3 separate regions of the Homo sapiens genome follow, and regions 2 and 3 are each linked to region 1. The links come from fine-mapping of genetic effects on gene expression. A gene starts in region 1. Each other region holds a variant in brackets. All regions are shown on one strand. Distances are from middle to middle. Region 1 holds the start of ADGRE3 (adhesion G protein-coupled receptor E3). Region 2 overlaps CLEC17A (C-type lectin domain containing 17A). Region 3 overlaps ADGRE3 (adhesion G protein-coupled receptor E3).

What was found.
Region 2: its variant is fine-mapped to the expression of ADGRE3 in whole blood (INTERVAL, PIP above 0.99).
Region 3: its variant is fine-mapped to the expression of ADGRE3 in whole blood (INTERVAL, PIP above 0.99).

Annotation. Positions count from the first base shown.
Region 1 is chr19:14,670,168-14,681,075 of GRCh38, forward strand. ADGRE3 (adhesion G protein-coupled receptor E3) reads right to left here and starts at 4,677. Exons shown (of 16, transcript NM_032571.5): 1 at 4,579-4,677. The coding sequence starts at 4,603.
Region 2 is chr19:14,608,127-14,617,640 of GRCh38, forward strand. CLEC17A (C-type lectin domain containing 17A) reads left to right here. Exons shown (of 14, transcript NM_001204118.2): 14 at 1,938-3,909. The coding sequence ends at 2,070. It also overlaps a transcript of ADGRE3 not described here. Among named protein-coding and RNA genes, the nearest start is that of SNORA104, 9.3 kb to the right of the region's middle. RefSeq lists a silencer at 6,100-6,149. The variant T/TA (reference allele first, on the strand shown) is at 4,806.
Region 3 is chr19:14,637,128-14,645,127 of GRCh38, forward strand. ADGRE3 (adhesion G protein-coupled receptor E3) reads right to left here. Exons shown (of 16, transcript NM_032571.5): 9 at 6,981-7,148; 10 at 4,292-4,489; 11 at 978-1,213. Among named protein-coding and RNA genes, the nearest start is that of SNORA104, 19 kb to the left of the region's middle. The variant C/T (reference allele first, on the strand shown) is at 4,386.

The sequences.
Region 1 (10,908 bases):
ATAGTCAGTTAGTGGATGGGGCTGCAACGGCTGAGAACTAGCTGGGCATTGTCCCTTCACCTGTTGTCTCAGGGTGTTGGGCTTGTTTGGGCTTCCTTCAAACATGGAGACCTGAAGCAAGCTGCTTTAATGGAACATCTAAGCTCTAAGCATGAGTGTCCCAGCTGATGAGGCTGCATTTCCTCTTGACACTCATCCCTGAAAGTCACCTGGCTCTACTTCCATCATATTCCCTTGGTTACAAGCAAGTTACAAGCTCATTCAGATTCAAGTGGAGAAGAATCAAATTCTTCCTCCTTATGAGAGACCAGCAAGGTTCTAGAAACACATTTTTGATGGGGGATATTATTTCCACCTTTTTGGAAAATTGTCTGCTCAGGCTGGCTCTATTGTGGCTGGTAAAGAGCCCTTTGCTCTTCCCCATGCCTTTCCAACATCCGATGATGTCATCAGTCATGTTCCTGCTTCTGCAAAGACCTAAAGATGCTGGACAGATGGACTGCTTTTTTTCTGTCACTTCAGCTTTGCAACGACTTTAGCAGGAAAGTGCTATTAGCATCATCTCTGCTTTTCAGATTAAGAAATGGAGGCACAGAGAAGGTAAGTAACTTGCTCCATTCACTGGGGCTAGTCAGTGGCAGAGCTGAGGTTAAACACGGGTTCTGGGTTCTAGCTGATAACCCATTACACCACATAGCCTCTCCTTCAGAAATCCCACAGGGCACTACCTGCATGGAAGTGCTGTTCAGATTGTAGACACTGTAGGTTGGCATGTTTATTGTGACAGTGACTTGTCCTTTTTTCCCCCGGCAGATGCCACTCACCAGATCTGACTGGAGCCTCAAAGTCCCGTAGAGAGTGGTATGTGACTTGGTCATTTAGGGCAGTGCAGACCAATTGTAGGATTTTGGAGAAGAGGCCCTGGGGGCTAACTGTGTGACTCTTCAGGAGAGGTAATGGCAGCAATCTAAATCCTTCTGGATCTCTCTCTTGAGTTTCCAATTGCTGCTATCACAAATTACCATGACTGTAGTGGCTTAAAACAACACTGATTTATTATTCTCTTACAGGTCTGGAAGTCAGAAGTCTTAAATCAGCCTCTATAGGCTAAAATCAAGAATGTTAGTAGGGCTGGTTTCTTTTGGAAGCTCTAGGGGAGAATCTGTCTCCTTGCCTTTTCCAGCTTCTAGAAGCTGCCTGCATTTCTTGGCTCACGGACCCTTCCTCCTTCTTTAAATCCAGCAGCACAGCATCTTCTCGTCTTCCTGATCTTCCACCTCCCTCTTAAGAGGACCTTTGTGATTATTATATTAGGCCCCCTGGAAAATTCAGGGTACTACCCCCATATTAAGATTCTTATCTTAATCAACATCTGCAAAGTTTCTTTTACCATGTAAGGTAACATATTAACAGGTTCCAGGGATTAGGATGTGGATGTCTCTGGGGGGACTGTTATTTTTCTTCCTGTAATTCTCACCCTTCCCCCAAGAAGATGCCAGGTCTGGTTTGTGATCAGTTACTTATGCAATTGCATTCACAGAACATTTTGAATATTCTCAGCTGGGCTTAATGTCAGGCTGATGTTTCCTTTAAAGTCCCCTTCCTTCTACATTTTTTATTTTTATTTTTATTTTTTTGAGGCAGGTTCTTTTTCTGTTGCCCCGGTTGGAGTGCAGTGGTGCAATCATACCTCACTGTAGCCTTGAACTCCTGGGCTACATGCATGAGATACCACTTGTGGCCAATTAAAAAAAATTTTTTTGGTAGAGATTGGGTCTTGCTGTGTTGACCGAGCTGGTCTTGAACTGTTGGCCTCAAGTGATCCTCCTTCTGTGGCCTCCCAAAGTGTTGGCATTATATGCGTGAGGCACTTTCTTCTTTTGTATATACATGAATGTGTAGCAGCCACACAAACCTTACGCCTGCCCAAATGATGACTAGCTCACAGGGCCAACTGATAAACCATATGGCTGAATAGTGTTACCCTGTTCCTAAAACTCAGGCAGTCTGGGGGACCATCATGTTTCCTTAAGACTAGTCTTTAGTCTAACCAGCAAGCCTGTACTCACTAATTTGGGCAAAGGTCTTAAGTTAGGGTTTCTGAAGAGTCATCGGTGTGTCAGAATCCCAGAGTTCTAAGAAACTTTAGAAATCATCCACTGACTTATTTTGTAGATGAGGAAACAGGTCCCCTGGGGTTAAGTGGCTGGCACACTAGTTGGGCAAATTTGGGTAAGTTGTTTAACTTCTCTAAGCTTCCTTATGTGAAATAGGGTGGCAGTATGACCTACTTTGTGGGGTTTTGGAGATGACCTAAATGAGGGACTGTGTAGAGCACAATGTCAGGCAGGAAGTCCTCCACTGATACTGGCTGCCTCTGTCACCATCTGACTTCCTCCTTTCCCATTTGGATGCTTTTTCTTTCTCTCTTTTTGCCTAATTGCTCTAGCTTGCTGCCTATATTATCATTTGAGCTCTGTTGCTCAGGCTGGAGTGCAGTGATGCAATCACAGCTCATTGTAACCTTGAACTCCTGAGCTCAAGCGATCCTCCCACCTCAGCCTCCAGGGTAGCTGGGACTGCAGGTGTGTGCCACCATGACTGGCTAATTTTTTTTTTTAATGTTTCTTGGAGACAGAGTCTTGCTATGTTGCTCAGTCTGGTCTTGAACTCCTGGCTCAAGCAATCTTCCCGCCTTGCCTTCCAAAGCTTTGGGATTATAGGTATGAGCCTCCATGCCCAACCCTGGAATCCTAATTCTTGACCCAATGCTCATATCATCACCCTTGCCTGTACCATCCAGTGATATGGGCTAAAAGTTCCTGGATAACCAAAATTCACTAATAATCCACCTCAGAAGTGTGGAGGACTCTGTCTCCAGTTGCAAAAAGGCAGGCTTCTTTCACATTTGATTCCACATATACTGAAACACCTCTTATATATAAGATGCTATGCTAGGGGTTGCAAAGGTGAGGGAGACATGGCATTAGGATTTAAGTGTAGCTTGTATTATTTTGATAGAATTTACAGCCTATCAGCTGCCTCTGCAGCAGAATAGCTGTGAGGCTTTGAGAAATTCACAGAACCTCTCTATGATGCAATTTCTTATCTGTAATGTGCAGATGCTATGTGACAATGTAAAGCAATTTAAGCCTAATGCCAGGCTAAAGTAGCTGCTTAATAAATGTAAGCTTTGATTGATATTGGGACTATCAATATTGTTAATTCATCTGGAGCTGGAAAGATGGATGGGATTTCATCCGTACAGAGATGGTGGTTGAAGCCATGGAATTAGGAGATTCCCATAGGGAGAGGGAGTAGAAAAACAGAAGATCCCAGTAAGGATCCTGTGGGAGGAGCATTATAGCAAAGATCTGGAGACAGATGGTTTGGATTCAAATCCCAGCTCTCTTATTTACTAGCTGTGTGATGTTGGACAAATAACATAACCTGTGCCCCAGTTTTCTTATCTGTAAGATGAGGATACCCCATGAGCATACTGATGATGCAACAGATTAATACATGTAAGGTGCATAGTGAGTTTTCAAAAATGTTGGTTATCATTATTTTCTTTGTATAAATTTATGGGATACAAGTGTAATTTTGTTACACGCATAGATTTCATAGTGGTGAAGTCAGGGCTTTTAGAGTATCCACCATCCAAATGATGTACATTGTAACCATTAGGTAACTTCTTATTTTCCACTGTCCTTCTACTCCCTCAGCCTTCCCAGTCTTCATCGTCTATCATTCTACTCTCTATGTCCATGTGTCCACATTATTTAGCTCCCACTGATAAACAAGAACATGAGGCATTTGTCTTTTGGTGTTTGAGTTATTTCACTTAATATAATGACCTCTAAAATTAATAATAAAATTATCATTTATTTTCTTGTCACAGGAAAATGATAAAGGAGGGAGAAGAAAGAATAGCAAGAGAAAAAGGAAAAAAGTCAGGGCAGGGCTAGTTTGCAGAAGTTATCAAGAAGGAGAAGACATCAATTAGAAAACAAAACTTGCCAAGAGGAAGATGAACAACGTATTAGAGACCGGGTGCGGTGGCTCATGCCTGTAATCCTAGCACTTTGGCAGGCTGAGGCGGGTGGATCACCTGAGGTCAGGAGTTCGAGACCAGCCAGGGCAACATGGTGAAACCCCATCTCTACTAAAAATACAAAAATTAGCCAGGTGTGGTGATGTGTGCCTGTAATCCCAGCTACTCAGGAGGCTGAGGCAGGAGAATCACTTGAACCCGGGAGGCAGAGGTTTCAGTGAGTCAAGATTGCGCCACTGCACTCCAACCTGGGTGACAGAGTGAGATTCTGTCTCAAAAAACAAAACAAAACAAACAAACAAAACAAACAAAAAACCAAGCTACTAGATTGGATAGGAACATTTTAGGGATATTCGAGAGCATACTTTGAATAGGGTAGTCAGGAAGGAAACCACACTCCAAAGGGAAAAGGTGAGAGTGTTCAGAGCAGAAGAAAGAGGAGGAGAAAATAACCAATTGTTGAACCAAGTGGTCCCTGACTGGGGGATAGGTTAAGCCTCAGTCATTGTTACAGTCACACATACCTGGAAGAAGCAATGGTCCCTGCATTTCTGTGGTACGGGTATCCCACGCCAGCCAGCCCTGGAAGCTCTCTACTGTGCCGTAAGCCAACCACCTTTCCTAGCTCAAGAAATCCCATGAGAATTGAAGTATGTATCTTAGGTCAGCTGACTCATGAAATTGCTATCAGAAAAGCAAACTGCTTCCCCTCTTTCGCCATCAGACTCATGGTTCTGCTTTTCGTTTATTTGCTGTACCTTTTCTGCCTAGCTATTGTTGATCACCTTTGGGATGATTGAGTTGGTAAACCCTAACGAGGAAATGCCCTGAAAGTTACATCACATTGTCTGAGGATTAGGAAGTGCCTTTGGGGCCAAAATAAATCTTAAATAAGCCTGTGGCTTTGAGGTGAGTAAACCAGATTTTAGGGTGTCTGTGTTGGTATCTGAAGTTTCCAGAGGAGTCATTTTAACATATCTTTCTCTTCCCCCAGTAGATGATACTTACTGGTTATGATTGCTGAGCCATAAGAAGTTAAGAGTCCCAAAGTCTCATAGAAGGTAATACATTATTTGGTTATTTGGACCAACCCTAACCAGTCACAGGACTTGGGAGAAAAAGTCTGTAAATCTACCCTTCCTCCAGCAAATATTTATTTATTTATTTATGTGGGTCTTGCTCTGTTACCCAGGCTGGAGTGCCGTGGCACAATCATAGCTCACTGCAACCTCAAACTCCTGGGCTCCAGCGATCCTCCCACCTCAGTCCTCTGAATCGTTAGGACTACAGGTGCATGCCACCACGCCTGGCTAATTTTTTTTAGTTTTTATTTTTTTTTTTGAAGAGAGACAGGGCCTCGCTTTGTAGCCCAGGCTTGTCTTGAATTTCTGGGCTCAAGCAATCCTTCTGCCTCAGTCTCCCAGTGTTGAGATTACCGGTGTGAGCCACTGCACCCGGCTCCCCTGCTTAAAACTCTTCTGAAGCTCTTCATTAGACTTAAAACACCAGACTTCCTACTGAAGCAGTGTTGTTGTCTGGGGTTCATCCTCTCATGCCAAGTAAATCAAGGATGCGGATGCACAAGAAGTGAATTTAAGGCCGAGCACTGTGGCTCACCCTTGTAATCCCAGCACTTTGGGAGGCTGAGACGGGCGGATCACCTGAGGTCAGGAGTTCAAGACCAGCCAAGCCAACATGGTGAAACCCTGTCTGTACTAAAAATACAAAAATTAGCTGGGCATGGTGGCGCATGCCTGTAATCCCAGCTACTCGGAAGGCTGAAGCGGGAGAATTGTTTGAACCCGGGAGGCAGAGGTTGCCGTGAGCGAAGATTGCGCCAGTTCCTTCCAGCCTGGGTGACAGAGTGAGACTTCATCTAAAAAAAAAAAAAAAAAAGTGAGTTTCAGAGCAGAAGTTTAACAGGCAAGAGAAGAGAAAAAAGAGAAAAGCTCTATCCTGCAGAGAGAGAGGGGCTCCCAAGTGAGTCTTCTGGTCTCGTGGTGAAATACATGGGGTTTTATAGCCGAGCTTGAGGAGGAGCTGTCTGATTTACACAGGAACCGAGAGATTGGTCGGACTGGGTGTGCTGTTTGCATAGCACGCAAAGAAGCTGGCCGCCCCATCCTCATCTTTTACTATGCAGATGGGGTCTCTACCTGGCTGGCACTATGTTGCCTGCTTTTTTACTGCACACGTGGTGATAAAGAAAAGGGAACATGGTGAAACCCCGTCTCTACTAAAAATACAAAAAATTAGCCGGGCGCGGTGGCGGGCGCCTGTAGTCCCAGCTACTCGGGAGGCTGAGGCAGGAGAATGGCGTGAACCCGGAAGGCGGGGCTTGCAGTGACCCGAGATAGCGCCACTGCAGTCTGGCCTGGGCGAAAGAGCGAGACTCTGTCTCAAAAAAAAAAAAAAAAAAAAAAAAGGGAAGAGGGAACCTCCATGTTGAACATGCCTGCCCCCAGGAAGCCTTTTCCTATTGGCACAGCCGCTGCATTTACCTTTGCAAACTTCCAGCTTGCTTATTTATGTTTGTAGCTCGATTTTGCAGACTGCTCTTTGTCGTGGTGGTGATGATGATGATGGTGATAATAACGGTTGTGGTGGTGATGGTGGTAATCATGGTAGTGGCAGGAGTGATGGTGGAGCTATAGGTGGTGGTGGTGACGATGAAGGAAGGGATGATGGTGATGATGACGATGGTTGCGATGATGGTGAAGATGATGAAAGTGACGGTGATGGTAGTAGCGATGGTGATGGTTACATTATGGTGATATTTTCAGAGATGGTGGTGATGATGGTGATTGAAGGTGACAGCTGCAGTGAAGGTGATTGTTGTGGTGATGGTGACGAAGGCTGTGATAGCAGTGGTGATAATGATGGGGTGAAAATAGCAAAGGTGGTGGTTATATTGGTAGTGGAGGTAAAGACGAAAAGAAATGATTTTGGGGCTGCTTTTTGTTAACAGGGAAGCCTTACTGAGGACTCTCTTACCCTCACCAGTTGCCTGAATAATATCTTTTTAGCTCTTGTATCACTAGATACAACAGGAACAAAAAGGAACAAACAAACAGGCAAACAAACAAAAAAACCACTGCAAGAAAGTAGCCCTGGTGGCAACTGAAGACACGGTCATGGATTAAATCATTTAGGGAGAGATTATAGAGTGGAAAAAGAACCCTGAGTAATTCATTTAAAAACTCAGGCAATGTTAATTTGTGCAAAGGCAATAGAAAAAAATTAAAAAAAATAAAGGAATGGAGAGGCAGCTAATAGAGGAGACAGGACGAGAATGGCCAGAGAGATGAGGGGTGGGGGTGGGAAATGAATGGAGTATGGTATTATGGAGGTAAAGGAAAGAGATCACACTGAATTAAGACTGAAAGACACCCACAGGAGAGAGCTGCAAGGGGGTTGTTTGTATTCTTAGCATGAACAATTACAGTAGTGAAGGTGGTGGTGGTGGTGATGATGCTGATGCTGATGATAGCGGTTGTGGTGGTGGTTGTTATATATAAAGTTTCGGTGACGTGAAAGAAATAGCACTTGAATATAAAATTTTCCTTTTAATTCTCAGCAAGGCAAGTTACTTCAATATAGAAGGGTGTGCCCTTACAGATGGAACAGTGGCGAGCGCACATTCGGACATGGGAGGGGAAGGGGTTCTTATCCCTGACTCAGGTGGCCCCTGCTGCTGTGTCGTTCCCCTATTGGCTAGGATTAGACCGCGCAGGCTAAACTAATGCCGATTGGCTAATTTAAAGAGAATGACGGGGTGAGTGCTTTGGCGGGAGTCAGGGCAGAGCAGGTAGCAGGTAATCGGAATGAGTTAGGGTGGAGCAGGTGATCAGAATGAGTCAGGGTGGAGTAGGTAATCGAAAAAGCTGCTTTACGAGGAAGTTAAGTTTAAAAGTAGAAGGCAAAGAATTGAACATACTGACATATTAATTCTTTGAAAATAAATTTAGAACTCATATCTAACATGGTGATGATGATGATGATAATAACGGTTGTGGTGGTGATGATGATGGTGATAGAATGGTTGCAGTGGTGATGGTGGTCATCATGGTAGTGGCAGTAGCGATGGTGGTGGTAGAGGTCGTGGTGGTGATGACGGAAGTGATGATGGTGGTGATGATGATGGTTGCGATGGGGCTGAAGGTGACGAAAGTGACGACGGTGGTAGTAGCAATGGTGGTGGTAACATCACAGTGATGTTTTCAGAGATGGTGGTGATGATGGTGATTGATGGTGACAGTTGTAGTGAAGGTGACTGTTGTGATGGTGATGAAGGCTGTGATAGCAGTGGTGATGAAGATGGGAGTGAAAATAGTGGCGGTGGTGGTTATGTTGATAGTGGAGGTAAAGATGGTGGTGATGCCAATAATGGTAGGGAAGGTGGTGGAGGTTGTTGTTATAATGGTTCAAGCCAGAATTATGTGGATTGAGGAAAAAGCGCGAGGGGAAGAAGTGGAGACAGCAAGTGAAGTCACCTGTAAAGACAGTTGGAGAAAAAAGTATGAGCAAAGCAAGATGATCAAGAGACCTCCCTGGGTGTTTGGAGCATGGTGGAATTAGCTGGCTATTGGGATTGTCAAGGCCATGAACGTACGTAGTAGGTTTGTTGGGCTCTCAACATCCTACTGTCCCAGCATGCATGCAGTGAGGCTTCCTGATCTTTCTCCCTAGTGATCGTCTAGGGGTGGGGTTGTAGAGGCAAGAGTTGATCAAGAGAGACAGGTGGTGCTACCTAATGGTCAGGCCAAAGTGGTTCACATAGTTTGGATGTTGTTCCCTCTAACTCTCATCTTGAAATGTAATCCCCAGTGTTGGAGGTGCGGCCTGGTGGGAGGTGATTGGATTATGGGGGTGGATTTTTGATGGCTGGTTTAGTGCCATTTCCTCGGTGCTGTCCTCATGATAGTGAGTGAGTTCTCATGAGATCTGGTTGTTTAAAAGTGTGTGACTCCTCCCCTCTTCTCTCTTGCTCCTGCCCTCACCATGAGACACCTACTTTCCCTTCACCTTCTGCTATGATTGGAAGCTTCCCAGGCCTTCCCAGAAACCAAGCAGATGTCAGCTTCCTGTAAAGCCTGCGGAACCACGGGCCAGTTAAAACACTTCTTTATCAATTACCCAGCCTTGGATATTCCTTTGTAACAATGCAAGAATGGCTTAACTCAGTAGTTATGCTATTACAGAATGTTGGCTGCAGAGTCAGAATCCCTGGGTTCAAATCCTGGCTCTGCCACTGATTAGCTGTGTGACTTTGGGAAAGTTACTCAACCTCTCTTTTCTGCAGGCATCTCTGATCTGGGATAACTGCAATAGTCTCGTAACTCGTTGTCCTTCTGTCCCATCCTCCACCGTGCAGTCAGGACAGTTTTCTGAAAGATGATTCTGGGCCCATCACACCTCTGCCTCACAACCCTGTGAATATTTCACAGGCTAAATGCACTTACTTAGTAGGTGCATAAATCTCACCCCACTCTGGTCCCACTCCACTTCTCCAGCCTCATTTCCTACCCTTCTGCTTCAGCCTTTCCACCTTCCCTGATACATTTTCTGTTTCCCTAAACTCCACATTCTATTTGTAGCCTTTCATGCCTTTGTACATGTGATTCTCTCAACCTGGAATGCCCCCCCATTTTTTTTTTTTTTTGAGACAAAGTCTCACTCTGTCACCCAGGCTGGAGTACAGTGACATGATCTTGGCTCACTGCAATCTCCGCTCCCCGGGTTCAAGCAATTCTCCTGCCTTAGCCTCCTGAGTAACTGGGACTATAGGTACCCGCCACCATGCCTGGCTAATTTTTGTATTTTTAGTAGAGATGGAATTTCCTCACGTTGGTCAGGCTGGTCTCAAACTCCTGGTCTCAAGTGATCTGCCTGCCTTGGCCTCCCAAAGTGCTGGGATTACAGGTGTGACCCACTGTGCCCCACCTGGAATGCCCTTTCTTTTTCTTTCTTGCCACTCTACTCCTGGCCACGTCCTTCAAGTGGCATTCTTTTGCATGTCCTTCCATGATAAACTCTTGTGAAAGGAAAATAAAGTCTCAGGACTCCAATTCAGGAATAAAATTAAGCTGAAAGCGGAGTCAAGCAGACAGCTACAGATAAAAGGCCAGATATCTTCACAGGTAGCTACTGTATATTCATTTTATCTTACATAAAGTGCCGATTTACTGAGCACAAGGTGAATACATCATTGACTAGTCCCCCACCTGCTCCTTTTATCTCTGGCAACACATTGGTTCAGTAATGTGACCAAACTCTCCCTCTTTCCCCTCCAGTCTGCTTTTCCCCCTTAAATATTGAAGCCCTCAAAATTATCTTTGGAGAAACAAACAGATGATAGTATGTTTTTCTGTGTTCCTTTCTTCCAGGCATGTTCTTGACCCTAGCAAAATAAGCTTCTAAATTGATTGAGACCTGTCTCAGTTACTTTTGGTTTATACTCTCCACTGTGCCCTTCCCTGCCTCTAAGATAGAGTTAGCTTCTCTCATTTCTCTGTTCATATCCTATTTCATCAAATCTAAAGCATTATTAATTTTAAGGTACACCATTGGCCGGGTGCGGTGGCTCATGACTGTAATCCCAGCACTTTGGGAGGCTGAGGTGGGCGGATCACTTGAGGCCAGGAGTTTGAGACCAGCCTGGCCAACATGGCGAAACCCCATCTCTACTAAAAGTACAAAAAAGTAGCCAGGCGTGGTGGCACGCACCTGTAATCCCAACTACTCAGGAGGCTGAGGCAGAAGGATCGTTTGAACTCAGGAGGCTGAGGTTGCAGTGAGCCAAGATGGTGCCACTGTACTCCAGCCTGGGTGACAGAGTGAGACTCCACCTCAAA
Region 2 (9,514 bases), 63 kb before region 1:
CTCCCAAAGTGCTGGGATGACAGGCTTGAGCCACCACACCTGGCCTCTACTAATTTTAAACACAGAAAAATTCCTGTCCTGTTTGGTAAATTGCCATTGCCTTAAATCTCCTGAGAATCCTTCTGCTGCCCCTTGGACTTCCACATCACCTAACAACTAAAGGATTTGTCATTGGCAAAGAAGGGGCCTAGAGACCCTGATTGCAGGGTGTGTGGCACAGGTAGCATTGCTCATTATTTTGGTACACCACCCCCAGTCATTCCCATTTCCCTGTGTGCTTGGCATCCTTGCAGTCCAAGCTGATAGGGTGTCTAGCATCCCAGGCTTGGCCAGACAGGGACAGCACCAGGGTGATTTTTTGGTGACAGGCTGTCTGGACCCTGAACCTTCAATATTTCCTCCATTGCAACATCTCAGTCTTTTCGTAAAACTGCTGAAATATATCAAGCTCTCCAGGCTAATGGTTGGGAGAAAAAAGGGAGGGTGGAAGGATGAGGAAGAATTTTTTTTTTTTTTTTTTTTTTTGAGACAGAGTCTCACTCTGTTGCCCAGGCTGAAGTGCAGTGGTGCAGTCTTGACCCAATGCAACCTCTGCCTCCCAGGCTCAAGTGATTCTCCCACCTCAGACTATTGAGTAGCTGGGATTACAGGTGCGCACCACCATGCCTGGCTAATTTTTTTTTTTTTTTTTGAGACGGAGTCTCACTCTGTGGCCCGAGCTGTAGTGCAGTGGCACAATCTTGGCTCACTGCAACTTCTGCCTCCTGGATTCAAGCGATTCTCCTGCCTTAGTCTCCCAAGTAGCTGGGATTACAGGCGCCCGCCACCATGCTTGGTTAATTTTTGTAGTTTTAGTAGAGACGGGGTTTCAACATGTTGGCCAGGCTGGTCTCGAAATCCTGACCTCAGGTGATCTACCCGTCTTGGCCTCCCAAAGTGCTGGGATTACAGGTGTGTGCCACCGCACCTGGCGGAACATTGGCTGCTAAAGGCTCACAGGAATGCTTTTTCCGCAAAGCTATTCTCAGCTGAATGGGAGCCTGCTCACCTAAGACACTACCCAACTCCACTGGGGTCAGCTCACAACCGGTGACAGCCTAAGAGAAGCCTGGACCCCTTGTGACAAGTTGGGATGACTCTGGTGCTGTTGACATCCCAGTGGTCTCTGTTGGGGTCAGGCTGAGGCTAGAGTCATCTGAGTCCATGCTCCTGCTCAATTCCTTCCCCTTCTCCATCTAGCTTCCCTCACCTCTCTCCTAAGAACATCCTTTAATAAATCCTACACACTCGAGTCCCTGAATCAGGCCCTGCTTTAAGCAAGAGCCCACATGATCTAAACAATTCCTAGAAGGTTGGGTTGGGAGGTTGTAAAAGAAAGAGTCCTTGGAAGACAAGACAGAAACTGACCAGATTCAGAAATTGATTAAGGGGCCAGGCACGGTGGCTCGTGCCTGTAATCCTAGCACTTTGGGAGGCTGAGGCGGGCGGATCACTTGAGGTCAGGAGTTCAAGACCAGCCTGGCCAACATGGTGAAACCCCGTCTCTACTAAAAATATAAAAACTAGCCGGGTGTGGTGGTGGACACCTGTAATCCCAGCTACTTGGGAGGCTGAGGCAGGAGAATTGCTTGAACCCAGGAGACAGAGGTTGCAGTGAGCCGAGATCACGCCACTGCACTCCAGCCTCAGCGACAGAGTGAGACTCTGTCTCCAAAACAAAACAAAACAAAACAAAAAACCCCCCAAAACCAGAAATTGATTAAGGGCCAGGCACGGTGGCTCACTGTGCCCGGCTTACAGGTGTAAGGCTCCACACACGGCCTAATATGGGTTTTGCCAAATGCGTAGTGCCAGGTATTCATCATTACAGTATTATACAGAAGAGTTTCACCACCCTAAAGATCCCTGTCCCTCTGCCCACTTTTTCCTCCATCCAGCTTCTGGGAGCCAGAGGAACCCAATAACATCCACGATGAGGACTGTGCTACCATGAACAAAGGTGGCACCTGGAATGATCTCTCTTGCTACAAAACTACGTATTGGATTTGTGAGCGGAAATGTTCCTGTTGAAGCCCAGGGCCGAGGCTGGGGGTCCATATCTGAGTGTCTCTTTGAGATGAGAATCTCCTGCCCTTTCGTGGACGGCCTTGCCTCTTCGTGAGTGGACACACAGATGTGCCTCAAACAGGATTGGCACCCTGGATGCAGCAAGTTCCCAGGGGTGCAAGTCAGGCTGTTTCTAGAGTGAGGACTTGGGCTTGCCCTAGTAGATGGTGAGCTGGGAGGATGCTCAGAGCTTGGTGGTGGGAGGTCTCCCACTTCTGGGGTTGAAAGGATCTTCACTAAGTTCCTGATCATGACTCTTGGGAAGTGATACTAGCCCTGAGGACCCTGGGGCTGGTGTTGAACCTGGGATGAAATATCCTGGCGCCTGTGAACCACAAAGAGCTGGGACTGGGCTCCTTTTCCTGCAGCCTCAAACTTCTGGGCTCAGGTGATCCTCCCATCTCAGCCTCCTGAGTAGCTGGGACTACACATGCGCACCACCATGCCTGGCCAATTTTTTGTAGCATTTAAAGAGAGGGAGTCTCACTATGTTGCCCAGGCCAGTCTCAAACTCCTTGCCTCAATGGATCCTCCTACTTGGGCTTCCCAAATTGTGAGGATTACAGGTGTGAGCCACTGTGCCTGGCTCAAAATTATTATTATTATTTTTATAGAGATGAGGTCTCACTCTGTTGCCGAGGCTGGTCTCAAACTCCTGGGGTCAAGCAATCCTTCCGTGATGGCCTCCCAAAGTGCTGGGATTACAGGCATGTGTCACCGTACCTGGCCGATATTTTTATTTTTATTTTTACTTTCCCCATCTTTTCCTTTTTTTTTTTTTTCCAAACAAAAGCTTTGAAAGTGGTGACAGAAAAATTTCCCTTTGAGCTAGACCTCTAGATCTGCCTCGCACAGAAATACATTAAGTGGGCTGGTCTCATGTAGTCCCCACATCATTGCAAATTACAAACCTAAAAATACAGAACATCAGCGGAGAAGACAGGAGAGCTTCTATATTCACCCCATGTCGTCCTCTCCAGACACTGCTTCCTTCCTGGTCTCAAACAGCACAAATAACCCAGAAACCATCAAAATTATTTTTGACCAGCAACTTTCTCAATGTCTTGGGTGAGGTTTGCACAAGCTAAGTGGCAGAATCAGACTTTTGCCAGAAGACTTGGCCCGTGGAACTTCTATCCTTTTTTTTTTTTTTTTTTTTTTTTGAGATAGGGTTTCATTCTACTACCCAGGCTGGAGTGCAGTGGCACAATCATAGCTTACTGCACCCTCTGCCTCCTGGGCTCGAGTGATCCTCCTGCCTCAGCCTCCCAAGTAGCTGGGACTACAGGCGTTCACCCTCACACCTGGCTGGCCCATGGAACTTCTAGAAAGGCATACCAGCTGAAAAGCAAGACCCCTACATAGTGTGGCCAGGCAGGCCATAACCTGGTCATATCCACACAGGACAACGATGGACCTATCTGCCAGCACGTGCCCTTGAGCTATCTGTGGGTTGTAACGTCTTTGATGATATAATTCACTTTACTTGCCAGGCACAGTGGCTCACGCCTGTAATCCCAGCACTCTGGGAGACTGAGGTGGGCTGATCACCTGGGGTCAGGATTTCGAGACCAGCCTGGCCAACATGGTAAAATCCTATCTCTACTAAAAATACAAAAAAATTAGCTGGGCGTGGTGGCATGTGCCTGTAATCCCAGCTACTCAGGAGACTAAGGCACGAGAATTGCTTGAACCCAGGAGGCGGAGGTTGCAGTGAGCCGAGATTGTGCCACTGCACTCCAGCCTGGGTGACAGAGCAAGACTCCATCTCAAATAAATAAATAAAAATAAAAATTCACTTTACTTCTGTGTGGACTTTCCTGGGCTATTAGCTCTTGCAATGTTAGTGCTTCTCAAAATGCCACTATGTTGGGTGTTCCTTGTCTACTGTGTGTTAGTTTGCTGGGGCTGCCATAACAAAGGACTGGGTGGCTTCAGCAACAGAATGCATTTTCTCACAGTTCCGGAGGCTGGATGTCCAAGATCAAGGTGTTGGCAGGGTTAATTTCTTCTGAGGCCTCCTGTCTTGGCTTGTAGATGATCCTCTTCTCCCTGTGTCTTCACCTGGTTCTCCTTCTGTGTGTCTGGGTCCTAATCTCCTCCTCCTCTTCTTTTGTTTTTGAGACAGGGTCTCGCTCTGTCACTCAGGCTGGAGTGCAGTGGTGTGATCTCAGCTCACTGCAACTTCCACCTCCCAGGCTTAAGCATCCTCCCGCCTCAGCCTCCTGAGTAGCTGGGATTACAGGTGTGCACCACCGTGCCTGGTTAATTCTTGTATTTTTTGTAGCAACGGGGTTTCACCATGTTGCCCAGACTGGTTTTGAACTCCTAGGCTCAAGCAATCTGCCCACCTTGGTCCCCCAAAGTGCTGGGATTACAGGCATGAGCCACTGTGCTGGGCCTACAACGACCACTTTAAAGATCCTGTCTCCAAATACAGCCATATTAGGAGGTCCTGGGAATTAGAATTTAAACATATGCATTTGGGAGGGGTGGCACAATTTGGCCCATAACATTCACAAACTGCCAGAGTGACCCCCACCCGACCCTCCTGCCCTGGCCATGTGACAACCAAAAAATACCAATTAGAGGGCTGGTACTACTCCCAGCTAGGCATAACTCAACATAGTATTCCCTTTGGACAATCCCTGAATTGCATCCAAGGGTGGGTAGACATTCTCCAAACCAATCAATTTATT[T/TA]TTTTTTTTTTTGTGACAGAGTCTTGCTCTGTTGCCCAGGCTGGAGTGCAGCGGCGTGATCTCGGCTCACTGCAACCTCTGCTTTCCAGGTTTAACTGGTTCTTCTGCCTCAGCCTCCTGAATAGCTGGGATTTCAGGCACGTGCCACCATGCCTGGCTAATTTTTGTATTTTTAGTAGAGACAGGGCTTTGCCATGTTGGCCAGGCTGGTCTCGAACTCCTGACCTCAAGTGATCCGCCCACCTCAGCCCCCTAAAGTGCTAAGATTACAGGCGTGAGCCACCATGCCTGGCCTTATTTTATTTTTTGAGACAAGGTCTCACTCTGTCGCCCAGGCTGGAGTGCAGTGTTGTAATCATAGCTCACTGAAGCCTCAAACACCTGAGCTCAAGAAATCCTCCGTCCTCAGACTCCTGTATAACTAGAACTACAGGTGTGCCCCCACCACACCCAGCTAATTTTAATTTTTTTTTTTTTTTGTATAGACAGGGGTCTTGCTTTGTTGCCCAGACTGGGCTTAAACTCCTGGTCTCAAACAATCCTCCTGCTTCAGCCTCCTAAAATACAAGGATTGCGATCAATTTATTGATCAATAAGCTCCCTTAATCAATAGCAGAATCTTTCCTGTTTTGTCTGAGAACAGGTGCTTATAGCAAGGAGACTGTGAGGAGAGCAGGTGGTGGGAGAGGTCGGAGCTGATTTCACTTCCTGTTTCTTTGATTTGTTTTAAATCTACTTGTTCTTTTATTTCGTTATTAAAAAAATTTTTTTTGAGATGGAGTGTCACTCTGTCACCCAGGCTGGAGTACAGTGGCATGATCTCGGCTCACTGCAACCTCCTCCTCCTGGGTACAAGCGATTCTTGTGCCTCAGCCTCCTGAGTAGCTGGGATTACAGGTGTGCGCCACCACATCCGGCTAATTTTTGTATTATTAGTAGAGACGGCATTTCGCCACTTTGGCCAGGCTGGTCTCGAACTCCTGACCTCAAGTGATCCACCCGCCTTGGCCTCTCAAAGTGCTGGGATTACAGGTGTGAGCCACTGCACCCAGCCTCGTTATTTATTTTTAAGAGATGGGTTCTCAGGACGTGGCCCAGGCTGGAGTGCAGTGGCATTTCACAGGCACGACCCCACTACTGAGTTTTGGTTCTGTCTGTCCTCTCTTCTCACCTCTGCCCACCTCTGCAGCTGCCCTGATGCATCACTACCAAAGCCAGCTCCTGTACTGTCCGCAGCCTGCTGAGTGGGTGGGTGTCGTGTTGTAAACCCTCCACCCAGGGGACTGTTATGTCAAGCAACTTTATCTGGGGTCAGGGGAAGTTCCCACATTTCAGAAGAGGGAAGTTGTTTTCTGATATGCGTATTGAGAAATGGGGAAGCAGGGGTCTGTGGTCACGTCTCTAGGAGGCCCCTGGTGGAACTGGTCCCAACCTATCTCCCTTCCACATCTCTCATGATTATCTAATTGCAGAGAGGTAAATATGAAAGAGGTCACTTTTTACCACTTTAGGTCCAGGGGAGCAACAGTTGGATAAAAATAATAACCATGGTTTATCAAACATATATTGTGTGGTAAATAAATGCAGTGGCTCTCATTGAATCTTCACCATGACTTTGTGAGGTTGGAATATTTACCAACGCCCGCCAATCTTTTTTTTTTTTTGGGCAGAGTCTCACTCTGTCTCCCAGGCTGGAGTGCAGTGGTGTGATCTCGGCTCACTGCAACCTTTGCCTCCTGGGTTCAAGCCATTCTTCTGCCTCTGCCTCCCAAGTAGTTGGGATTACAGGTACACCGTAATGCCCAGTGAATTTTTTCGTATTTTTACTAGAGATGGGGTTTTGCCATGTTGGCCAGGCTGGTCTCAAACCCCTGGCTTCAAGTGATCTGCCTGCCTTAGCCTCCCAACGTGCTGCGTGCTGGGATTATAGGTGTGAGCCACTGTGCCCGGCCCCCATTTTTTTTTTTTTTTAAAGACAGGGTCTCACTCTGTCACCCAGGCTGAAGTGCAGTGGTGCAATCACAGCTCATTGTGGCCTCAACCTCCTGGGCTCAAGTGATCCTCCCACCTCAGCCTCCCAAGTAGCTGTGGCTATAGGTGTGTGCCACTACACCTGGCTAACCAACCCCATTTTATACCTGGGCAAACTGAGGCCCAGAGGTGGGGTCTCACGGCTTGTCCATTGTCATTTAGTGGGTAAATGGCAGAACTGGGATTCAGATTCCATCTGTGCCTCCCACTGTTTGTTGATCTCTTTCTACAGCTGCCTTCTTTTTTTTTTTTTTTTTTTTTTTGAGATGGAGTCTCACTCTGTTGCCCAGGCTGGAGTGCAGTGGTGTGATCTTGGCTCACTGCAACTTCCATCTCCCACCCCAGCTCCCTCGTTCCTCGGGAGAGGTGACTCTGAGATGCATGTTCCACATTATCTCCTGAAAGTCCCCACTAGGGTAAAGCTCCACCTGCCTAGAGAGATAGCCTGCTCAACTAACACATTTTTGGTTAATTTTTAAAATTAAAAAAAATTTTTTTTAGAGAGACAGCATCTCTGGCCAGGTGTGGTGGCTCACGCCTGTAATCCCAGCACTTTGGGAGGCCGAGGCAGGTGGATCGCTTGAGGCCATGAGTTCGAGACCAGCCTGGGCAACATGTTGAAACCCCATCTCTACTAAAAAATACAAAAATTAGCCGGGCGTGGTGGTGCGTGCCTGTAATCCCAGCTACTCAGGAGGCTGAGGCAGGAGATTTGCTTGAACCCGGGAGGCGAAAGTTACAGTGAGCTGAGATTATGCCACTGCACTCCAGCCTGGGCAACAGAGAGACTCTGCTAAAAAAAAAAAAAAATTAGAGAGACAGGTTCTCGCTGTGTTGCCCAACCTAGAGTGCAGTGGTGCAATCATAGCTCACTGCAACATTGAACTCCTGGGTTCAAGCAATCCTCCCGCCTTCGCCTCCAGAGTATCTGAGACTACAGGTGTGTGCCACTGCTCCCAGCAATAACACATCTTTTAACACATCTTGTTCTTTCTCTGCCTTACTTTTTTTTTTTTTTTTAACAGAGTCTTGCTCTGTCGCCCACTGTAACCTCCGCCTCCCAGGTTCAAGTGATTCTTCTGCCTCAGCCTCCCGAGTAGCTGGGACTACAGGCCTATGCCACCACACCCGGCTAATTTTTGTATTTTTAGTAGAGACGGGGTGTCACCATATTGGCCAGGCTGGTCTTGAACTCCTGACCTCTGCCCTTGTGATCTCCTCGTGATCTCCACGTGAACTCCTCGTGATCTGCCCATCTCGGCCTTCCAAAGTGCTAGGATTACAGGTGTGAGCCACCGTGCCCAGCCCTGCCTCATTTCTTCACACCCCGTTGGTGTTTCCTGGGATCATCTCCAAAATAATCTACCTGCATGCATTAAACTCCTTATCTCAGAGTTTGCTTTTGGGAGAACTCAAATGATGATGCTATGGGATGAGTGTCATCATCAAAGATGAGTTTGTGAAATGGTTCTGGTTTGCCTGGGACTGAGGGACTCCTGGATTGTGGGACTTTTGGTACTAAACCTGGGAAAGTCCCGGGTAAACCAGAATGAATTGACTATCCTTATAGGAGGATAGTGTGGCATCAGGGAAGCCAAGAGAAGAGAATGCTTCAAGAAGAAAAAAAATGATCAACAGAGTCAAATGTTGACCCAGCGGTCAAGTTTGGTAAGACTGAGAAACAACCAGTGGACTTTGCACCGAGGAAGCATTTGGGACATTGGTTCATCCTTTGGTGTGTTGCAAGCAGAAGTTAGATTGCAGTGGTTGAACAGTGAGGAGGTTGGAGCAAGTGAAGACAACACAGTGGAAACAAGCTTTTTTCTAGAATTTTTTTTTTTTTTTTTTTGAGATGGAATTTCGCTCTTGTTGCCCAGTCTGGAGTGCAGTGGCGCAATCTCGGCTCACCGCAACCTCCATCTCCCGGGTTCAAGTGATTCTCCTGCCTCAGCCTCCTGAGTAGCTGGGGATTACAGACATGCGCCACCACGCCTGGCTAATTTCGTATTTTTAGTAGAGAGGGTGTTTCTCCATGTTGGTCAGGCTGGTCTCGAACTCCTGACCTCAGGTGAACCACCCGCCTTGGCCTCCCAAAGTGCTGGGATTATAGGTGTGAGCCACCACACCCCACCTTTTTTTCTAGAATTTTGGCTGTGAAGAGGAGGAGAGATAGAGTGGCTATTGCAGAGGGAAAGCAGATTAAGGGGAGACTTTTTGGATAGAAGGGGCCTGAACATGTGTCCTCTCTTTTCCTTCCTTCTTTTCTTTTCTCTTTTCTTTTCTTTTTTCTTTCTTCCTTCCTTCCTTTCTTTTTCGTTCTTTCTCTTTCTCTCTCTCTTCCTCTCTCTCTTCCCCTTGCTTCCCTCCCTCCCTCCCTCCCTTTCTTTCTTTCTTTCTTTCTTTCTTTCTTTCTTCCTTTCTTTCTTTCTTTCTTTCTTTTCTTTCTCTCTTTCTTGATGGAGTCTTACTCTGTCACCCAAACTAGAGTGCAATGGCATGATATTGACTCACTGCAACCTCTGCCTCCTGGGTTCAAGTGATTCTCCTGCCTCAGCCTCCCAAGTAGCTGGGATTACAGGCCCCTGCCACCACGCCTGGCTAATATTTGCATTTTTAGTAGAGATGGGGTTTCACCACATTGGATAGGCTGGTCTCGAACTCCTGACCTCAGGTGATCC
Region 3 (8,000 bases), 34 kb before region 1:
GTTTCCCCTTGAGATATTCTTTCAGGTCCTGTGTACCAGTGAAACTACTGGCTTCAGCTGCTCTGAAGGACCACAGAAGGAGCTGAGTCACCAAAGAAGGCAGTTTCCGTCTCCTGATGATTTTGTCTGCTGTACCCTGACCCACATTTTCCAGCCTCCACACCCTCCATGATCCCTTTAAAAGTCCCAGTCCCGAACTCCTTGAGGAGATTGATTTGAGAGTCTTCTCTCATCTTCTCGCTTGGCGCCCTGAGATTTTTAAGCTCTTTTTTTTTTTTTTTTTTGAGACAAGGTCTTGATCTGTCACCCAGGCTGGAATGTAGTGGCCTGAGCATAGCTCACTGCAGCCTTGAACTCCTGGGCTCAAGCAATCCTTCCATCTCAGCTTCTTGAGTAGCTGGGACTACAGGTGTGAACCACCATGCTTGGCTATTTTTTTTTTTTTTAATCTTTAGTAGACACAAGGTCTTGCTATGTTGCCCAGGCTGGTCTTGAAGTTGTGAACTCAAGTGATCCTCCTGTCTGGGCTTCCCAAAGTGCTGGGATTACAGGTGTGAGCCACTGTGCTCAGCTAATTTTTTGTAGAGATGAGGGCCTTGCTATATTGCCCAGGCTGGTCTTGAACTCCTGGCCTCAAGTGATCCTCCCACGTTGGCCTCCCAAATTGTTGGTATTACAGGTGTGAGCCACCACACCTGGCCTCATTAAGCTCTTTCTCTGCTGCAAACCCTGCTGTCTTGGTGGATTGGTACGTTACTGTGCAGTGGGCATATGAACCTGTTGGTTGTATAAGACTTCCAGAACCTTGCAAACTCTTACCACCATCTCACCCTGCTTTGTTGGGAAAGAGGTTAGAGCTGTTATAAAGGAGAACGTAGAGTGCATTGGTTACGTATATTCCCACCATCATCATGAATGCTGCCCTCAAAAGCTTTCTTAGGAAACTGTCCATGACACAAGGTGGGATTCAAGCTCACCGATCAGCAGTTCCATAAAGGTGAGGCCAGGAGGCTGCAGAAATGGCCACAGTCACAGCGGGAACGCCATAGCCGACTGGGAACATGATCCACTTCATGAGTCTATTGATGCTTGAGTAGTTGACCACTGTCAGGTTCCGTGCAGTGAGGAAGAGGTGCACACCCTCCAGCAGCATCCAGGTGAAGGCGGCCAGGTAGAGATAGTGCAAAGCACCGGCGATGATGGAGCACAGCACCTGGGGGAGGAGAAAGGGATGCCTGAAGGGGTTGTCAGGGTGGAGTATGGCCCTAGGACCTCTCCTTGACATTGGCTTTGGGTTCAGAGCACCTGACATCAGACCAAGGGCACTAAAAGTAAAGGGGAACTGGATGCAGTGGCTCATGTCTGTAATTTCAGCACTTTGGGAGGCTGAGGTGGGAGGATTGCTTGAGCCCAGGAGTTTGAGACCAGCCTGGGCAACTTAGTGAGACCCCATCTCAATTATATTTAAAAAAATAGATAGTTGATAGTCAAGGATAGCTTTGGCCACCTGGGCACCAATCCCTTCAACCTGCCCTTGGGACTGAAAGGGTAGCAGAATGTGCCACCTCCACCTATGCCACTTTGCAACAGATCACCAGAATTTACCCCTCCTTTTAAACTAAGACTTTGTATACTTTGAGCTATGTCTCCTTTCCTCATCCACTTCCCCCCTCAACCTCTGAGAACCTCCATTCTACTCTCTACTCCTACTGTATTGCGTGGTGACTATAGTTAATATATTATGAATTTTGAAGTTGCTAAAAGAGTGGATTTTGTTCTATTTTATTTCTTTGTGACAGGATCTCACTCTGTCACCCAGGCTGGAGTGCAGTGGCACAATCATAGCTCACTGCAGCCTTGAACTCTCAGGCTCAAGTGATCCTCCCACCTCAGCCTCCCTAGTAGCTGGGACTACAAGTGTGTGCCACCATATCCACTAATTTTTGCAGAGACGGGGTCTCACTGTGTTGCCCAGGCCAGTCTCCAACTCCTGGGCTGAAGTGATCCTCCCGCCTTGGCCTCCTAAAGTGCTGGTATTACAAGCATGAACCGCCACCCCAGTCCTAAAAGAGTGAATTTTAAATGTTTTCACCACAAAGAAATGATAAGTATGGAAGTGATAGATATGTTTATTATCCTGGTTTGGTCATTTCATAATGTGTATGTCTATGGAAACTTCACATTGTACCCCATAATTTTATACATTTATTATTTTTCAATTAAAAATAAAATTTAGAAAAAAGTTTCACTTTAGCATAAGAGATTATTATTATGATTATGATTCTTTTTTTTTTGAGACATGGTCTTGCTCTGTCACCCAGGCTGGAGTACAGTGGTTGCAATCATAGCTCACTGCAGCCTCGAACTCCTGGGTTCAAGCAATCTTCCTGCCTCAGCCTCCCAAGCAGCTGGGACTACAGACGTGCACCACTGTGTCCAGCTAATTTTGTTATTTTTTTTGTTTTTTTTGTAGAGACAAGGTCTCACTATATTGCCCAGGATGGCCTCAAACGCCTGGCCTCAAGTGATCTTTCCACCATTGCCTCCCAGTGTGCAGGGATTGCAGGTGTCAGCCACTGTGTCTGGCCCAAGGGATTATTTTAAACTGAAGGCAGTTGAGAAGAAGCAGATACAAAAATAGCTCTCTGCCCTCCCCCTATTTGCCTAAAAGCAGGACATACGTTTTTGTACTTGTCTTTTTTGGGGGGTGAGAACACTTAAAATCTACTTTGTTAGCAATTTTTCAATATAGAATATATTGTTATTGACTATAGTCATGATGTACAATAGCTCTCTTGTATTTATTCTTTCCGTCTAGCTGAAATTTGGTATCCTTTGACCAACATCTCCCTAAACCCCTTCCCTGCTGCCTTAGTCTCTGCTAACAACCATTCCCCTCTTTGGTTTTATGAGTTTGGCTATTTTAGATTCCACACATAAGTGAGATCATGCACTGTTTGTCTTTCTGTGCCTTGCTTATTTCACTCAGCTTAACAATCTCCAGGTTCATCCATGTTATCACAAATGGCAGGATTTCCTTCTTTTTCTGAAGGCTGAATAGTATTCCAGGACATTAGTTTACAAAGGCATTCCTCATACCTATTCTCTTCCTTCTACCCTCCTACCCTTGCTATGGGGGGGACAAAAGTTGATCACTAAGACAACTTATTTATTTATTTAAGATGGAGTTTTGCTCTTGTTGCCCAGGCTGGAGTGCAATGGCGCAATCTTGGCTCACTGCAGCCTCTGCCTCCCGGGTTCAAGCAATTCTCCTGCCTCAGCCTCCCAAGTAGCTGGGATTACAGGTGCTCATCACCACGCTGGGCTAATATTTTGTATTTTTAGTAGAGACGGAGTTTTGCCATGTTGACCAGGCTGGCCTTGAACTCCTGACCTCAGGTGATCTGCCCACCTCAGTCCCCCAAAGTGCTGGGATTACAGGTGTGAGCCACTGTGCCCGGCCACCGAGACAACTTTAGATCCTCATTGGTCTGGAGCCAACACCAGAGGAATCTACAAAACCAATGATATGGTTTGGCTCTGTGTCCCCACCCAAATCTCATCTTGAATTGCACTCCCATAATTCCCAAATGTTGTGGGGAGGACCCGGTGGGAGATAATTTGAATCATGGGGGCGGTTTTCCCCATATTGTTCTCGTGGTAGGAAATAAATTTCACGAGATCTGATGGTTTTATCAGGGGTTTCTGCTTTTGGATCTTCCTCATTTTTTCTCTTGCAGCCACCATGTAAGAAGTGCCTTTCGCCTCCCGCCATGATTCTGAGGCCTCCCCTGCCATGTGGAACTGCAAGTCCAATTAAACCTCTTTTTCTTCCCAGTCTTGGGTATATCTTTATCAGCAGCCTGAAAATGGAGTAATACAACCAATGATACTAGTAAGCCTTTATCTATCACTCATTTCCCAGATATTTGCCTTCCCATAATTTGTGCCCCTAGAGAGCCAAGATCTTTTTCCCTTCTTCAAAAATTCATCATTCTTTGTCAAAAACGCTGTCGTTCTAAACTACCTCTTTGAGAATGCCTCGTTACCTGGGTATCTCCCATGTATATATGAAATATGAATATATGTTAATGAACTTCTGTTTGCTTTTTCTCTTATCTGTCTTTTGTTACATGGGTCCCAGCTACGATCTCAGAAGGGTAGCGGGAAAATTATATTTTTCTCCTCTACAGACCCAAGGACATTTTATTAAGGAATCTAGTGCAGCATTGCTCCATGAGCTCAGTGTACCTTGGGGCAGAAAGGGCATCCTCTGAGACACTGTCAGTACCTTGGGTTCAGTTCGATCAATCCCCACGAGGAAGAGGAGGTGGGCCAGGAAGAGGCAGAGCGAGAGCTGCAGATGCAGTGAGGTGCTGGTGTTC[C/T]GGATGGCTTTACACAGGAGAAAAGTGAGGGCCGCCAGGAGGAGGCACAGCAGAGAGACGCTCAGCCCCACGTAGGTGATGACAGTCAGCACGGGATCCTCCTCCTGGGACCGAGAAAAAAAGTTCACAGTGATGCTTTCCTGCACTGGGATTATGGCTCCCTCCTTGAACTGGGGCATCCTAGACACAGGCACCAAGCCCAGTGGTAGTGTGGGACCGTTAGACTGCTAATGTAGATTGCTAATGTAGACTGCTAATATACACTGCTAATATAGATGGCTAACGTAGATTGTTAATGTAGACTGCCAATGTAGATTGTTAATACAGACTGCTAATGTGATTGTTAATGTAGACTGCTAATATAGATTGCTAGACTGTCTTTTTTATTTTCAGCTTTATTGAGGTGTATACTTAATGTATCAAAAATTACTCATATTAAATGTATACACTTTGATGAGTTTGGACATATGATTTTTTTCCCCTAAAAAAAGTAGAATGGCAGTTACCAGAAGCTGGGGAGAGGAGAGAGAGAGAATAGGGAGTTGGTTAAGGAGTGAAGAGTTTCAGTATTGCAAGATGAAAGAGTTCTGGAGATGGATGGTGGTTGATGATTGCACGATATGATTGTACTTTACTGAACTGTATATACATTTAAAAATGGCTTAGATGGTAAATTTTATGTTCTGTGTATTTTACCACAATCTTTACAAAGTGATTTTTGGGCCATGGTGTCTCACACCTGTAATCCCAATGCTTTGGGAAGCTGAGGTGGGAGGATTGCTGGAGGCCAGGAGTTCAAGACCGACCTGAGCAACAAGTGAGACCCCGTATCTAAAAAAAAAATAAAGTGTCTTTGTATGCAGAGGGCTTGTGCTATGCAGTACCAGTTTGATCAGAGAGCTCATACTAATGAAGGGATTTAAAAAACTTTTTTAAGTTCAGAGATACATGTGCAGGTTTGTTACATAGGTAAACCCCTGTCGCGGGGGTCTCTTGTACAGATTATTTCATCACCCAGGTATTAAGCTTAGTACCCATTAGTTATTTTTCCTGGTCCTCTCCCTCCTCCCACTCTCCACCCTCTTTGTGTCTGTTGTTCCCCTCTTTGTGTCCATATGTCTCCTCATGTAGCTCCCACTTATAAGTGAGAACACGAGTATTTGGTTTTCTGTTCCTGTGTTAGTTTGCTAAGGATAATGGCCTCCAGCTCCATCCATGTCCCTGCAAAGGACATGATCTCATTCTTTTTTATGGCTGCATAGTATTCCATGGTGTATGTATTCCATATGTACCACATTTTCTTTATCCAGTCTACCATTGATGGGCATTTAGGTTGATTCTATGTCTCTGCTATTGTGAATAGTGCTGCAGTGAACATACATGTGCATGTGTCTTTATGATAGAATGATTTATATTCCTTTGGGTATATACCCAGTAACAGGATTGCTGGGTTGAATGGTAGTCCTGTTTTCAGCTCTTTGAGAAAGTGACATGCTGCTTTCCACAATGGTTGAACCAATTTACAACCCCACCAACAGTGTGTGTTCCTTTTTTTCTGCTACCTCACCAGCATCTGTTATTTTTTGACTTTTTAATAGTAGTCATTCATGATGTGGTTTATAGTAATCATGGTTTTTTTTTTTTTTTTTTTTTAGACAGAGTCTCGCTCTGTCGCCAGGATGGAGTTCAGTGGTGTGATCTCGGTTCGCTGCAACCTCTGCCTCCCAGGTTCAAGCAATTCTCCTGCCTCAGCCTCCTGCGTAGCTGGGACAACAGGCGTGTGCCACCACACCTGGCTAATTTTTGTATTTTTAGTAGAGATGGGGTTTCACCATGTTGGTCAGGATGGTCTTGATCTCCTGACCTCGTGATCTGCCTGCCTCGGCCTCCCAAAGTGCTGGGATTACAGGTGTGAGCCACTGTGCCTGGCCCAGTAATCATATCTTTGCCCTGGGGTCCTATAGTCTGAGCAACTGAGGTCAACCATGTAGGCATTGCATCCCTATGTGAATGATCCCCCAATACACACCCTGAACACCAAAGCTCTGGTGAGCTTCCCTGGCTGACAACACTTCACATGCGTTGTCATAAGTCATTGCTGGGAGAATGAACTGCATCTGTGTGACTTTCCTGGGAGAGGACACTGGAAGCTTGCACCAGGTTTCTCCTGGACTTCTTACCTTGCGTCTTTTCCACATGTTGATTTTTTTTTTTTTGAGATGGAGTCTTGCTCTATCACCCAGGCTGGAGTGCAATGGCTTGCTCTCAGCTCCCTGAAACCTCTGCCTCCCAGGTTCAAGCCATCCTCTTGTCTCAGCCTCCTGAGTAGCTGGGATTACAGGCATGTACCACTATGTTTGGCGAATTTTTGTATTTTTAGCAGAGATGGGTTTTTGCCATGTTGGCCAGGCTGGTTTCAAACTCTTGACCTCAGGTGATCTGCCCGTCTTGGCCTCCCAAAGTGCTGGGATTAAAGGCATGAGTCACCATGCTCGGCCTTTTTTCAGTTTTTTTTTTTTTTTTTAATAGCACTTATTACCACTTAGTAGGGGCTCAGAAAGTATTTGCTGGAAGAATAAAACATATACATCATACCTGGCTGGTCAGGGCCATCAGGACAGCGAAGCTGGACAGGTGACTGCAATTACACATGGTGTGACTCTTGTTCACGTGTATCAGGAAGCAGCCATCCCTGGACCACTGGCTGCCCTGCCCTGTGCTCTTCCAGTAGACACAGAAGACCTTTTTGGTACTGGGGGTCATCTGAAAATAGAAAATAGAAAGGGCTCATTGTCTTTGTCTTTCTTTCTTTCTTTTTTTTTTTTGGAGACAAAATCTTGCTTTGTTACTCAGGCTGGAGTGCAGTGGCTCAATCTCGGCTCACTGCAACCTCCGCTTCCTGGGTTCAAGCGATTCTCCTGCCTCAGCCTCCCAAGTAGCTGGGATTACAGACGTGCAGTACCACACCAGGCTAATTTTTGTATTTTTTGTAGAGACAGGGTCAACCGTGCTGCCCAGGCTGGTCTCGAACTCCTGGACTCAAGCAATCTTCCTGCCTTTGCCTCCCAAAGTGCTGGGATCATACAGGCATGAGCCACTGCATCTGGCCAGCTCATTGTCTTTTTCCTCAGGAGGGACAGTTCTCAGTGTTGGCCTATGCCAGGGTGCCACCTGCTAAGGCACCTGTGTGAAGAGTGACTCAGGTGATTTCTGTTTTGTTTGTTTGTTTTTGAGACGGGGTCTCATTCTGTCACCCAGGCTGGAGTGCCGTGACGCAATCACAGCTCACTGCCACCTTGACCTCCCTGGCTCAAACGATCCTCCCATCTCAGCCTCCAGAGTAGCTAGAACTACAAGTGTGTACCACCATGCCCAGCTAACTTTTGTATTTTTAGTAGAGATGGGGTTTCAACATATTGCCCAGGCTGGTCTTGAACTCCTGGCCTCAAGCAATCCTCCTGCCTTGGCCTCCCAAGAGGCTGTGGTTATGGGCATGAGCCGCTGTACCTGATTTCTATTTTATGCGGCCACCAGGACCCCCGATCCATAACCGCAGCTCTTTTGGGATTTTATGTAACATAAAATAAAGCAAAGGCTCCCTGGGAACCACAGTTT